Linked DNA regions of Homo sapiens. The protein of the gene in region 2 interacts with the protein of the main gene of each other region in a pairwise test. Each region holds a gene or a part of one and is shown on either strand. Other genes may lie near its edges.

The links. The genes of interacting proteins can lie anywhere in the genome.
Region 1: the proteins of ALG8 (region 2) and MFSD6 interact in binary tests that used the Homo sapiens proteins (3 or more experiments, as listed by UniProt).

The regions. Positions count from the first base shown.
Region 1 is NC_000002.12:190,488,355-190,495,389, reverse strand, and holds part of MFSD6 (major facilitator superfamily domain-containing protein 6), read right to left. Parts: intron 6,734-7,035; coding exon 6,572-6,733; intron 5,623-6,571; coding exon 5,524-5,622; intron 4,777-5,523; exon of another isoform or gene 4,572-4,776; coding exon of another isoform or gene 4,553-4,571; intron 1-4,552.
Region 2 is NC_000011.10:78,108,612-78,115,646, forward strand, and holds part of ALG8 (dolichyl pyrophosphate Glc1Man9GlcNAc2 alpha-1,3-glucosyltransferase), read right to left. Parts: intron 6,188-7,035; coding exon of another isoform or gene 6,095-6,187; intron 5,782-6,094; coding exon 5,655-5,781; intron 5,379-5,654; coding exon 5,275-5,378; intron 4,160-5,274; coding exon 4,039-4,159; intron 971-4,038; coding exon 831-970; intron 1-830.

The DNA.
Region 1 (7,035 bases), on a different chromosome or scaffold from region 2:
CCATCCATGAGCATGGGATATGTTTCCATTTGTGTATGTCATGTATGATTTCTTTCAGCAGTGTTTTGTAGTTTTCCTTGTAGAGGTCTTTCAGCTCCTTGGTTAGGTGTATTCCTAAATACTTTATTTTTTGCAGCTATTATAAAAGGTGTTGGGTTCTTGATTTGATTCTCATCTTGGTCACTGTTGGTGTACAGCAGAGCTACTGATTTGTGTACATTAATTTTGTATCCTGAAACTTTGCTGAATTCATTTATCAGTTCTAAGAGCTTTTAGGAGGAGTCTTTAGGGTTTTCTAGGTATACAATCTTATCATCAGCAAACAGCGACAGTTTGACTTCCTCTTTACCTATTTGGATGCCCTTTATTTCCTTCTCTTGTCTGACTGCTCTGGCTAGGACTTCCAGTACTATGTTGAATAGAAGTGGTGAGAGTGGGCATCCTTGTCTTGTTCCAATTTTCAGAGGGAATGCTTCCAACTTCTCCCTGTTCAGTATTATGTTGGCTGTGGGTTTATCACAAATGGCTTTTATTTCACTGTGTTATGTCTCTTGTATGCTGATTTTGCTAAGGGTTTTAATCATAAAGGGATGCTGGATTTCATCAAATGCTTTTTCTGCGTCTACTGAGATGATCATGTGATTTTTGTTTTTAATTCTGTTTATGTGGTGAAAGACATTTATTGGCTTGCATATGTTAAACCATTCCTGCATCCCTGGTATGAAACCCAGTTGATCATGGTGGATTATCTTTTTGACATGCTGTTGGATTCGATTAGCTAGTATTTTGTTAAGGATTTTTGCATTGATGTTCATCAGGGATATTGGTCTGTAGTTTTCTTTTTTTGTTATGTCCTTTCCTGGTTTTGTTATTAGGGTGATACTGGCTTCATAGAATGTTTTAGGGAGGATTCCCTCTTTCTCTATCTTGTGGAATAGTGTCAATAGGATTGGTACCAATTCTTCTTTGAATGCCTGATAGAATTCAGCTGTGACTCCATCTGGTCCTGGACTTTTTTTTGTTGGCAATTTTTTTATTACTGATTCAGTCTCACTACTTAGTTGTCTGTTCAGGGTTTCTAATTCTTCCTGATTTAAGCTAGGAGGGTTGTGTCTTTCAAGGAATTTATCTCCTCTGCGTTTTCCAGTTTATGCATGTAAAGGTGTTAATAGTAGCCTTGAATGATCTTTTGTATTTCTGTGGTGTCAGTTGTAATATTTCCTGTTTTGTTTCTAATTAAGCTTATTTGGATTTTCTCTTTTCTTTTCTTGGTTAATCTTGTTAATGATATATCAATTTTATTTATCTTTTCAAACAACCAGCTTTTTGTTTCATTTATTTTTTGTATTTTTTTTCCTTCAATTTCATTTAGTTATTCTCTCATCTTGGTTATTTCCTTTCTTCTGCTGGGTTTGGTTTGTTCTTGTTTCTCTAGTTCCTTGAGGTGTGACCTTAGATTGTCTATTTGTGTTCTTTCATACTTTTTGATGTAGGCATTTAGGCTATGACCTTTCCCCTTAGCATTGCCTTTGCTGTATCCCAGAGGTTTTGATAGGTTGTGTCACTATTATTGTTCAGTTCAATTTTAAATTTCCATCTTGATTTTGCTGTTGACCCAATGATAATTCAGGAGGTTATTTAATTTCCATTTATTTGCATGGTTTTGAAGGTTCCTTTTGGAGTTGATTTCCAGTTTTATTCCACTGTGGTCTGAGAGAGTACTTGATATAATTTCAATTTTCTTAAATTTATTGAGACTTGTTTTATGGCCTATCATATAGTCTATCTTGGAGAAAGTTCCATGCACTGATGAATATTCTGCAGTTGTTGGGTAGAATGTTCTGTAAATATCTGTTAAGTTCATTTGTTCCAGGGTATAGTTTAAATCCATTGTTTCTTTGTTGACTTTGTCTTGATGTCCTGTCTAGTGCTGTCAGTGGAGTACTGACGTCTCCCACTATTATTGTGTTGCTGTATATCTCATTACTTAGGTCTGGTAGTGATTGTTTTATAAATTTGGGAGCTCCAGTGTTAGGTGTATGTATATTGAAGATTGTGAAATTTTCCTGTTGGGCAAGGCCTTTTATCATTATATAATGTCACCCTTTGTCTTTTTTAACTGCTGTTGCTTTTATGTTTGCTTTGTCTGATGTAAGAATAGCTACTTCTGCTTGCTTTTGGTGTCCATTTGCATGGAATGTCTTTTTCCACCCCTTTACCTTAAATTTATGTGAGTTCCTATGTGTTAGGCGAGTCTCTTGAAGGCAGCAGATACTTGGTTGGTGAATTCTTATCCATTCTGCAATTCTGTATCTTTTAAGTGGAGCATTTAGGCCATTTACATTCAATGTTAGTATTGAAATGTGAGGTACTATTCCAATCATTGTGTTATTTGTTGCCTATATACCTTGCTTTTTTTTTTAATTGTATTTTGTTTTATAGGTCCTGTGAGATTTATGCTTTAAAGAGGTTCTGTTTGGATGTGTTTCCAGGATTTGTTTCAAGATTTAGAGCTCCTTTCAGCTCTTGTAGTGCTGGCTTGGTGGTGAGTGGCAAATTCTTGTAGTTCTGGCTTGGTAGTTCTTGGAGTGCTGGCTTGGTAGTTCTTGGAGTGCTGGCTTGGTAGTGGTGAATTCTCTCAGCATTTGTTTGTCTGAAAAAGACTGTATCTTTCCTTTATTTATGAAGCTTAGTTTCACTGGATACAAAATTCTTGGCTGGTAATTGTTTTGTTTTGTTAGCATTGCCTTTGCTGTATCCCAGAGGTTTTGATAGGTTGTGTCACTATTATTGTTCAGTTCAATTTTAAATTTCCATATTGATTTTGCTGTTGACCCAATGATAATTCAGGAGGTTATTTAATTTCCATTTATTTATGGAAATTAATTATGAGGCTGAACATAGGGCCTCAATCCCTTCTAGCTTGTAGGGTTTCTGCTGAGAAATCTGCTGTTAATCTGAGAGGTTTTCCTTTATAGGTTATCTGGTGCTTTTGCCTCACAGCTCTTAAGATTCTTTCCTTCCTCTTGACTTTAGATAGCCTGATGACAATGTGCCTAGGCAATGATCTCTTTGCAATGAATTTCCCAGGTGTTCTTTGGGATTCTTGTATTTGGATGTTTAGGTCTCTAGCAAGTTTTCCTTGATTATTTCATCAAATGTGTTTTCCATACTTTCAGATGTATCTTCTTCCTCAGGAACTCCAATTATTCTTAGGTTTGTTTATTTAACATAATCCTAAACTTCTTGGAGGCTTTGTTCATTTTTTAAAATTCTTTTTTCTTTGTCTTCGTTGGATTAATTCAAAAACCTTGTCTTTGAGCTCTGAAGTTCTTTCTTCTGCTTCTTCGATTCTGTTGCTGAGACTTTCCAGAACATTTTGCATTTCTGTAAGTGTGTCCTTTATTTCCTGAAGTTGTAACTGTTTCTTATTTATGCTATCTATCTCATTGAAGATTTCTCCCCTCACTTCTTGTATCATTTTTTTGATTTCCTTAAATTGGACTTCACCTTTCTCTAGTGCCTCCTTGATTAACTTAATAATGGACCTTCTGAATTCTTTTTCAGGGAAGTCAGAGATTTCTTCTTGGTTTGGATCTATTGCTGGTGCTAGTGTGATTTTGTTGGGGCAGGTTAAAGAACCTTGTTTTGTCATATTACTAGAATTGTTGTTCTGGTTCCTTCTCATTTGGGTAGGCTATGGCAGAGGGAAGGGCTGGCACTCAAGGCTGCTGTTCAATTCTTTTGTCCCACAGGGTGTTCCCTTGATGTAGTACTCTCCCTGTTTTCTGAGGGATGTGGCTTCCTGACAGCCAGGCTGTAGTGATTGTCATTTCTCTTCTGGATCTAGCCCACCCAGCAGGGCTACCAGGCTCCAGGCTGGTACTGGGGTTGTCTGCATAGAGTCCTGTGATGTGAACCATCTTTAGGTCTCTCAGCTGGATACCAGCCCAATATTTGGCCTGTCTCTCAGGTCCTCCAGGAGCAATATGCTTCCTTCAGAGGGTCTGTGTATTCTCTCAGCTTTCCTGGTATATTCCTGCAGTAGTTCTGGAGCAAAAGCATGATGCAAGTCTCCACATGCTACTCGGTCCACCTGAGTGTGAGCTGCAACCTAATCCTGCCTCCTATCTTGCCATTTTCCCAATAACAGTCTCTCCAGAACACAAGTATTTTAAAAACTAACCCAGTACCATATTCTCACTAATCAAAGATGAGTTAAAATTTGATTGCTTATTTTTATGTTTCTTACATTGAATGTTTAATTAATGATTTTAAATTTTTTTGTGATTAATAGCAAAGATATTCAAGTCCATACATTTTTCTCAAAATACAACTTTAACTACATCTTATAACTTTGGGAGAGCCATGATAGTTATTTTTATTGGTCTTTTACATGAGGCATGGACTGAGGCTGTGTAAGAGAGAGAATCCATTTAGGATTATAAAAGAACAAAAGTAAGAAAAAACAGTATTGCTCTTTCTGAGTAACTCATTGAGATTAAAATCTGTCTCTGAGGCTTCTGTAACAAGCAAGTTTTTCTCTTCACAGAAGCATTTCAGGGGCCTGAGGCTAATGCTCCGCAAAGGATAGGACACCCAAAGAAGATGAGCTCTGTTCTGGGACCAAAAAACTGAGCAAAAATATTTTCATCCTCCTGGTTGACCTTTTTCATAAAAAGTTGAGTCAGCTCATTCTCATCTACATATTAATATTTGATATAACCTCCTTTTGGTAGAACAATCTTAATAAAGGCATCCCTGGTTCAGAGAAAACTTCAGATTTCAGGTCTTGACATTTTTGTCTTTGTTTTTTGTTTTTTTTTTGAGAGGGAGTCTTGCTCGTTCCCCCAGGCTGGACTGCAGTGGTGCTATCTCGGCTCACTGCAAGCTCCACCTCCTGGGTTCACGCCATTCTCCTGCCTCAGCCTCCTGAGTAGCTGGGATTACAGGCGCCCACCACCGTGCCCGGCTAATTTTTTATATTTTTAGTAGAGATGGGGTTTCACCGTGTTAGCCAAGATGGTCTTGATCTCCTAACCTCGTGATCCACCCGCCTCGGCCTCCCAAAGTGTTGGGATTACAGGCGTGAGCCACTGCACCCGGCCATTGTTTTTTTTTTTTTTAACAAATGAAGGTAAGTCATAGAGAAGATTACCACTCACTCCCTATCCCTAGTAGCAAAATGACTGTATAGCCTTATATGTATTTGACTTAAATTTGAAAAACCTTTAGAATACCAGAGAAATTGAAAACTAATACTTCCCTAGTACCTTGTATTATAAAAGAAAACAAACAAACAAAAAACAAGAAAACCCCAAGCTACTTAAAACAATATTTTTTCTGCATAGTAGGTGGATCTCTTTAACAATAGTCCACATGAATTCATCGATACGCCACTCAGAAAATTGAGCCAAACAGACCTGTTGTATACTCTGTACCACTTCTAGGCTTCTCGGGGCATTTGTTGACTTCCCATGGCCTGAACTGTTAGGAATATTAAGAAAGAATGGAAATAATTACCTTCTTCCTCATCTGGCACTGCCAGCCACTGGATCAGGGCAAAGAGCAGTAGGATCACCAAGCAGGCCATGCCAATTCCTCGGAAGGTTGCAGCAGCCCCTATAAAAACAAACAGCACTCTATAGAGTAATTCCAAGAAATGCAGATAGCGCTCATCTAAAACCATCAGTTTTCTAAAGATCAAAGCAAAGGAAGCACAGCTTGAGACAAACCAGAGAAAAGTAGTTGGGTATTAGCTCCACATAATGGAAAAACACAGGGCTGGGTACGTGTCAAGAGACCCAGGGCTGATATTGGATCTGTCATTGATCGATTATAAAACTGCATTTATATAGGATTATCTCTCAGTGCCTTTCACCATGACTCATACAATTCAATGGTGCTCTCCTCTTCATATGAAAAGACCATTTACCCAATTATTAACTAACAGCACTATTAATCTGTAGTTGGAACAGCAGTGCTCAAATAGTGCTATAAATGCACGCATTTCCTGGGGCCCACCTTATATATTAATAGATGACTGAGTAGTTAAGATTCCTGGAGCAGAATAATCTCATTCCTATTTCAGCTCCTATGTTTCTAATAAGGAAGATATGACAAGACAGACAGATATTGTTACCATAAATGTAGTAGCATTACCAAAGCCAGCATATGGTTAGATTCTTCTGGTTCAAAATCTCCTAATGGAATAACAATGATGAATTTTATTTCCTTTAGGGTTATTATCAGCAGGTTTAAGGTACCTTATTTTAGACCAAAAGCACTCATGCTAATTCATTTGTTTGGCTCCTTTGAGGGATCTCTGTAGCATCTCATTAAGCTGATTGTCAGAGGAGTGTGCACAGTTACAGGCTGGCTCAGATCAGCTTAACAACGTAAGCACACTGCTTTACAATTATGACTACCATGAAATCTAGAAAGAGATTATGAATACTGGAATTTAGCTTTGGGCAATCTTCAGTAATAATTGGATTGTTTATTGAGGTATTGCTGGAAAAAATCATGTTTTAATAATAGAAAAGAAAAAAAAGGAGAAAGCCATTCTTACCAAAATAATTGACTAACACGCCTCCGATCATGGCACCACATCCTCTTCCCAAACCCAGGTGAAGGCCCTGCAGGATGCCCTGAGCAGATGTCCTCAGCTCAGGGGGAACGGCTGCACTGAGGTAAGAAATGCATGCTGCCCAGATGGCCGCGTGTGTCACTCCTGGAGAGGAAGAAGAGCAGGAGGGATTAGTTGGTTAGCATTTCTTAGGCTACTCTGTTTTGAAATGTGAATTATTTAACTAGGCACCTATTTTTAAGATTTGTTGTGGGAAAACATACATTAAAAATTTACCATTTTCACATTTTTAAATGTACGGTTCAGTGGCACTGAGTACACTCACAGTGTTGTGCAGCTGTCACCACCATCCATCTCCAGAACTTTTTCACCACCACAACAAAAATTCTGTACCCCTTAAACCATAACTTACACTCACCCCTTGTCCCATCCCCTGACAACCACCA
Region 2 (7,035 bases):
ATAAATACTTAGTTTTATTGGCTGGAAGGCCATAGAAACTATATGTACCTCATAAGGCTGAAATTTTAGGAAAAATGTTTTACCTCAATTAAAATATGTGAACAAACAGCCCAACAGAGCTTAATTATCTACATACCTGTACTGTCATGTAATTAAGTGGAATCAGGTGGTTGCTAGCAGGTTTGAAACATTCAGAAACCAAAATTAAAGATGAGTGTAATTATCGATAGGATTGAGTTGTTTATATTGAATTCTACTAAAATTATACCATGAAATTGAGGTCACTGCAATCACTAATGAAATTTTAGAAATTAAAGTTTCTAAAGTACTTAGAATGAGGCCTCTAAGAGCATCTTACTCATATTAGGCTCATCTTAGGCTCAAAAAGCCTTTGTCGACTCTCTCAACTCATTATCACCATCAAGACAAAACATCCACGCTGTCCAGATACATTTGGAATTTTGATGATTTAGCTAACGGTGAGAAAAACAAACCAAATCTGGATGTCCCTGCCACAAACATTTCCTTCTTTCTCTGCAGCATGATCCATGCCTCTTCCTCTCTGGGCTTTTCTTTTTCCCTTCCCCCGGGTGAACAGATGGTCTAACAGCCACTGGCAAGAATCTCTCACAAAGGCTTTACTGGTAATCCTTCCTTATGGTATTCAAAGTTACTCTAAGAATTGCTAGGAAATGCTTCAATCTGCAGAAGGATTACAGGCATGAAATTTATCCTACAGTTGGAAGAGCTTGAAAGTTGAAATTTAATCAGCCAGACAAAAGAAAAGCAGAGAAAACTCAAGAAATGAGCACCATCTGTTGAGTTCTTACCAATATGGCAATCAGTGTGCAGATGAGGGTTGCCAAGGGAGTCACTGAGGGAAGGACTGTGTGTTGGAACTGCTGAACCAAACCACTTGTCATTGAGGCCTTGGGAATATTGTTGGGATCAAGAAATTTCAATTTCAAACCTATTAAACAGATATTTTGTTTTGTTTTATTTTTATCTTTATTACTGAGATACCATATATTAACAATCAATTCCTTGAGGAATAAAAAGTAAGCTACTAAATCTTATTGCTGCTTAAAGGCTAAGATTTCATGAATTTAATCCTATACTATTCTACCCAAAATGCCTCTGGTCTTAAGATTATAATATATAAAGCAGCTCTTTGCATTGGAACAGGGAATTTGTGCAGCTTATAGGAAACTTGCTGGCAGGCAGCACAAATGGTAATCTGCTCTCACCTCTGAAAGCAAGCTTCTAGAACAGTCTGAGCATGTCATGAAGGAACTTTGAATCCTTCATCTCCTATGGGAGAAACCCTCTATTCCTAAACATAGTATCCAGTGTCTTCCATGATCTCATCGCCCCTTCCCCCCTGTTCAATCTCATCTTTACTTTGTTAAATGCGGCTTGGCCACAATGAAGTAACTGTGAGTCCTCAATATACCACTCTCAACACCTGTGTCCCTCTGCCCAGGCAACTCCCTTTGCCAAATTAACTTCTAATTCAATCACCTGAGAAAGCTCCTAAATCAATAAGCAGAACTGATTTTCTTGTGAGCTCACTTTTTTTTTTTGAGATGGAGTCTTACTCTGTCACCCAGAGACAGAGGCTGGAATGCAGTGGCGCAATCTCAGCTCACTGCAGCCTCTGCCTCCCAGGTTCCAGGTTCCAGCGATTCTCCTGCCTCAGCCTCCCCATTAACTGGGATTACAGGCATGTGCCACCATGCCCGGCTAATTTTTGTATTTTTAGTAGAGACGGGGTGTCACCATGTTGGCCAGGCTGGTCTCGAGCTCCTGACTTCAGGTGATCCGCCCATCTCAGCCTCCCAAAGTGCTAGGATTACAGGCCTGAGCCAACGTGCACAGCTGAGTGAGCTCACTCTAACAGTGTTCACCACAAGGCACTGCACTTGTTTATGTGCTCATTTCCTCTACTATACTGTATTCCTTGAAGGCAGGAATGATGATGAGTTCATTTCTATCCCCAGTACATAGGAGCTCAATAAATACTTGGTTATTAAATAAATCAATTCAGAGAATGACAATACAAGCCCCAACAAGCTCTGGCTAATAGGACAGTCAGAGACAGTTTGAGCACCTATAGGGCCTGTCAAATGCCAGTGAAAATGAATACAATGTGGGAAAGATGTACCAAAATATTTTCTACTTACTAACCTCTTCCCCTTTCCCCTTTGGCCTGCTGATTCTCTCTTACAGCTAATAACTATCTCCCTAAAACAAAGTTGTCTAACTCTGACACTGACTTTCCATGTAAAACATCTTCAAAGACACAAACATACAAGTGAGGGTACAGTACAGCTTCCTGACTCAGACAAGGCAACTGGCCCTTGTACCTCATACTATGCTGGCTGTTTAAAGCTTTTTTTGAAATATGAATGTTAGGAATTACTCTGTAAGAATGCCATGTACATCAAGGCTAGATTCACAGTGAGCAACACGGTGACACAATGTATAAGTCATCACATAGGCAGTGTATGATCTCCTCCAAGTACTTATCAAAAACAGTAATAGTGGCCACCATGCATGGAGCGTCTACCATGTGCCCAGGGCTCTGCACTTACTACTTTTAGCCCCCTGAGGTACAGAGATGGAGTAACCTGCCCAAAGTCACACAACTAATAGGTGGTAAAACTGAACTCAGGTTTGTCTGGCTCCAAAGTCTCTGCTACTGATAACCTAGTACTTTTTAAATTTTGCTTCTGTTCCTCACAACACACTGTATAGGTACAGGTAAAGTACTAGTATGTCTTTCGTATAGTGAGGAAAGTTAGACGAAAGGAAGCAAATGACTTGTCAATGCCACACACTGCAATAGCAATTTACACAGGTGAGCCTCCAAACCAAGTCATCAGACTCTAGGTCTGGAGTCCACAAACTATAGGCCAACAGCCAAATGTAGCCTGTGCCCAGTTTTTGCACAGCACTGAAGTATGAATGGTTTTTACTTTTATAAGGTTTTAAACAAATGTGTGCATACACAAATACAGACACAGACACACATACACACACACACACTGTGTGTGGCCTGCATAGCTTAAAATATTATCTGGCCAGTTACAGAAAAAGTTTGCTGACCACCACTCTTGATCATGCCATTTTCCCACCAAGCTAGATTGTATTCACAAATGAGAGACTGTGTTATCCAGAGTGAGTTATTTTTAGTAGAACCATCTCAAACCATAACTTATTTTTCATTACGACCCAATTTTAAAAACCATAGCCTGGGTTTTTCATTTCTTCTCACCTCATGTTAAAATGCAGGGTTATTTTCCTTACTGGTTTAATACCGAGAGTCACAACTTACATATTCTTCTTTCTTGTATGTTTAGGTTTAAAAGTGGGGTAGGCCAGGCATGGTGGCTTGTGCTGGTAATCCCAGCACTTTGGGAAGCCAAGGTGGGAGGATCATTTGAGACCAGAAGTTTGATCCCACTCTGGGCAACATAGTGAGACCCTCATCTCTAAAAAACAAAAATTTAAAAATCAGCCAGGTGTGGTGGTATGCACCTGTGGTCCCAGCAACTCAGGAGGCTGAGACAAGAGGACTGTTTGAGCCCAGGAATTTAAGGCTGCAGTGCACTATGATCTCAACACCATTGCACTCCATCCTGGGTGACAGTGAGACCCTGTCTCTAAAAATAAGTAGGGGTTTGAATAGGAATGGTGAGAAGGGGGGAAAAAAAGCAGGGTTAACTGCTGCTGCTGAATAGTTTTTTAATTAAGGCAAAAATTACCTTTATAGAGTGTCTACATATTTTATTTTTTCCCCAGGAAAGGATCAATAACCTCATTACCACAAGGAGCTTTTATAAGGAAAACAGTCTGTTTACTGCACTAAAGCCTCAGTCCCAAGAACTGCTCCCCCTGTTCATCCTGAAAGCTGAAATGCAGGACTGGAGAACAAACAATTCAGCCACATTCAAAACACAAAGGTTTTTCCATTTCTCCATGTGCCTAAGTCCTTTCAATATTCAGAGTCTGAGTAAAAAATGCTCGCTACCATACCGATGACAGACAGCACTTTGTCCAAAGCATTGTACAAAGCCCAGAAGTTTGGAGCCCAATATGCATGACAGAGGCCCCTCTTGAAAGGAAAGAGTCGGGAAAAGACTTGAGGCAGCTGATTCTGTTGAAAAGAGAAATGAAACTGATTAAACAGTCATCAATCTTTTTCAAATTCAAAAAGAGAACTAGGGAACTCTCTATGGTATAGTGTGTAGAAAGTTATGGGGTCTGGGTTCTAGTAAGTAAGTGGTTATATGCTCACCACAATGTAAGTTCACAGAACCTTCTTTTGGTCTCACTTTGTCCACTGTCCAGTGGGACAATATACATAAAAATACTCTGAATACCCGTCCATACTATTATAATAACAGAAGAATTTACAAGCTACAAAGCAGAACACAGACTGCAGCTTATCCATGTCTACTAGGGTGAAGGGGAGAGCTGGGAAACTACAAAAGATGTGACGCGTTTCAGTTTTAGTAAGAATTAAAATTAATTAGTTGATTTCAGGGCAGGGAAGAAGAGGAAGAAAGAAAACATCTGAACATCTGTTAAATTCTATGCACTTTAGAATGTCTGCTGTCCATGTAAGACTGCAAAATTATTGATTTTGTTACAAATACATTTTATCAAGTAAGTAAACTTACAAGTACAGAATACACAAATAATGAAGATCAATTCTGTGTTTGTGTATGTGTAATGTACAGTTAAACATATACATGTATATATATATACATATTTGAATGTGCACAAAAATGTCTGAAAGAATACTACCTTATCGGGCCAAGAGCGGTGGCTCATGCCTTTAATCCCAGCACGTTGGGAGGCTGAGGCAGGTGGATCACCTGAGGTCAGAAGTTCGAGTCCAGCCTGACCAACATGTTGAAACCCTGTCTCTACTAAAAATACAAAAATTAGCCAGGCATGGTGGCATGTGCCTGTAATCCCACCTACTCAGGAGGCTGAGACAGGAGAATCGCTTGAATCCAGGAGGTGGAGGTTGCAGTGAGCCGAGATCACGCCACTGCATTCCAGCCTGGGCGACACAGTGAGACTCCATCTTAAACAAAAACAAAAAAAAAAAAGGAATACTGCCCTATCTTTGGGGAGTCACGTTGGGTAAGGAGTAAGAAAAAAGTAGCTTTTACTTATTTTACATATTCCTGGCTTTATTAGGTTTTCTAAACACCAACAAAGAACATGTATTAATTGAAAAAAAAAAAAAAAAAGGCTTACCAAGGCCAGGAAAGGACCCAATGAAAGAGCAGAAACTAAGAAAACAACCAGTCCCAGGGAAATAACACGAACAAAGCTGAAACTCTTCCATCGAATAGACCCATCTACAGAAAAGGAACATTATCAGTAACCAGGAAGATGGAAAGGAACATTAACCATAACCTATATCATGTGCTAAAACTAGAAGTATCCCACAATAGTATACCAATCTATTCATGATGTGGCAAGAGCAGAGAAAAGCGAGAATGGGTAAAGGGCTTACAGGATTAGCAGCTGAGATATCTGCTGTGCTTCATAAAACCTTCTTATCAAGCAAGCCACCAAGTCAACACAGTAAGGGAAAAATCGAAAATGTTTTTGCTATTATTACCAAAACTTGCCTGGTTTATTTGCAGTGAAACAGTAGGATCGCAGCAGATATACACCATAAGCTGGTGCTACATAGAGGTAGATATGCTTGAAATGTAGGAGAACAGCAAAGAGAAATGCTCCTTCCATATGCCTTTTCTAGGAGATTTAAAAGGGAAATATCACTTTAAAATTCAGGGTAAATGAAATGCAATAATGTGGTATTCTAGATTGAATCCTGGAACAGAACAAGGACATTAAAGGAAAAACGGGTGAAATTCAAATGCATCAATATTGCTTTCTTAGTCTTGATGAATGTACCATGGTTATGTAAGGTGGTAATGGGGGAAAATGGGTGAGGGATATATAGGAACTCTCTGTACTATTTCTACAACTTTTCTGGAAAGCTAAAATTATCCTACAAAAAGGTTATTTAAAAAACTAAAATTAGGCTAAGTGTGGTGACTCACACCTGCAATCCCAGCACTTTGGTAAGCCGACGTGGAAGGATTGCTTGACCCCAGGAGTTCAAGACCAGCCTGGACAAAATAGGGAGGCCCTGTCTCTACAAAAAAATAAAAAATAAAAAAAATTAGCTAGGCGTGATGGCTTGCACCTGTAGCACCAGCTACTCTGGAGGCTGAGGTGAGAGAATCTGCTTTAGCCCAGGAGGTGGAGGCTGCAATGAGCCATGATGACGACACTGCACTCCAACTTGGGTGACAGAGTGAGACCCTGTCTCCAAAATGAATAAATAAATAACAAAAATAAACAATACCTACTTTTTTAAATTTTTATTTTATTTTATTTTATTTGAGATGGAGTCTCCCTCTGTCTTACCCAGGCTGAAGTGCAGTGGCACAATCCTGACTCACTGCAGCCTCCGCCTCCTCGGTTCAAGCAATTCTCCTGTCTCAGCCTCCCGAGTAGCTGGGACTACAGGCGTGTGCCAACACACCCGGCTAATTTTTGTATTTTTTAGTAGAGACAGGGTTTCACCATGTTGGCCAGGCTGGTCTCAAACTCCTGACCTCAGGTGATCCACCTGCCTCGGCCTCCCAAAGTGCTGGGATTACAGGCGTGAACCGCCATGCTTGGCCCAAGGTAAATATTCTATAACCAGTATAAGGAAAACATAGGCAAGTGATTCCAGCTAGCTTTTTTTTTGAGACGGAGTTTTGTTCTTGTTGCCCAGGCTGGAGTGCAATGGCACGGTCTCGTTTACTGCAACCTCCACTTTCCGGGTTCAAGTAATTCTCCTGCCTCAGCCTCCCAAGTAGCTGGGATTACAAGTGCCCACCACCACGCCTGGCTAATTTTTTTGTATTTTTAGTAGAGATGGGGTTTCACCATGTTGGCCAGGCTGGTCTCAAACTCCTGGCCTCAACTGATCCACCTGTCTCAGCCTCCCAA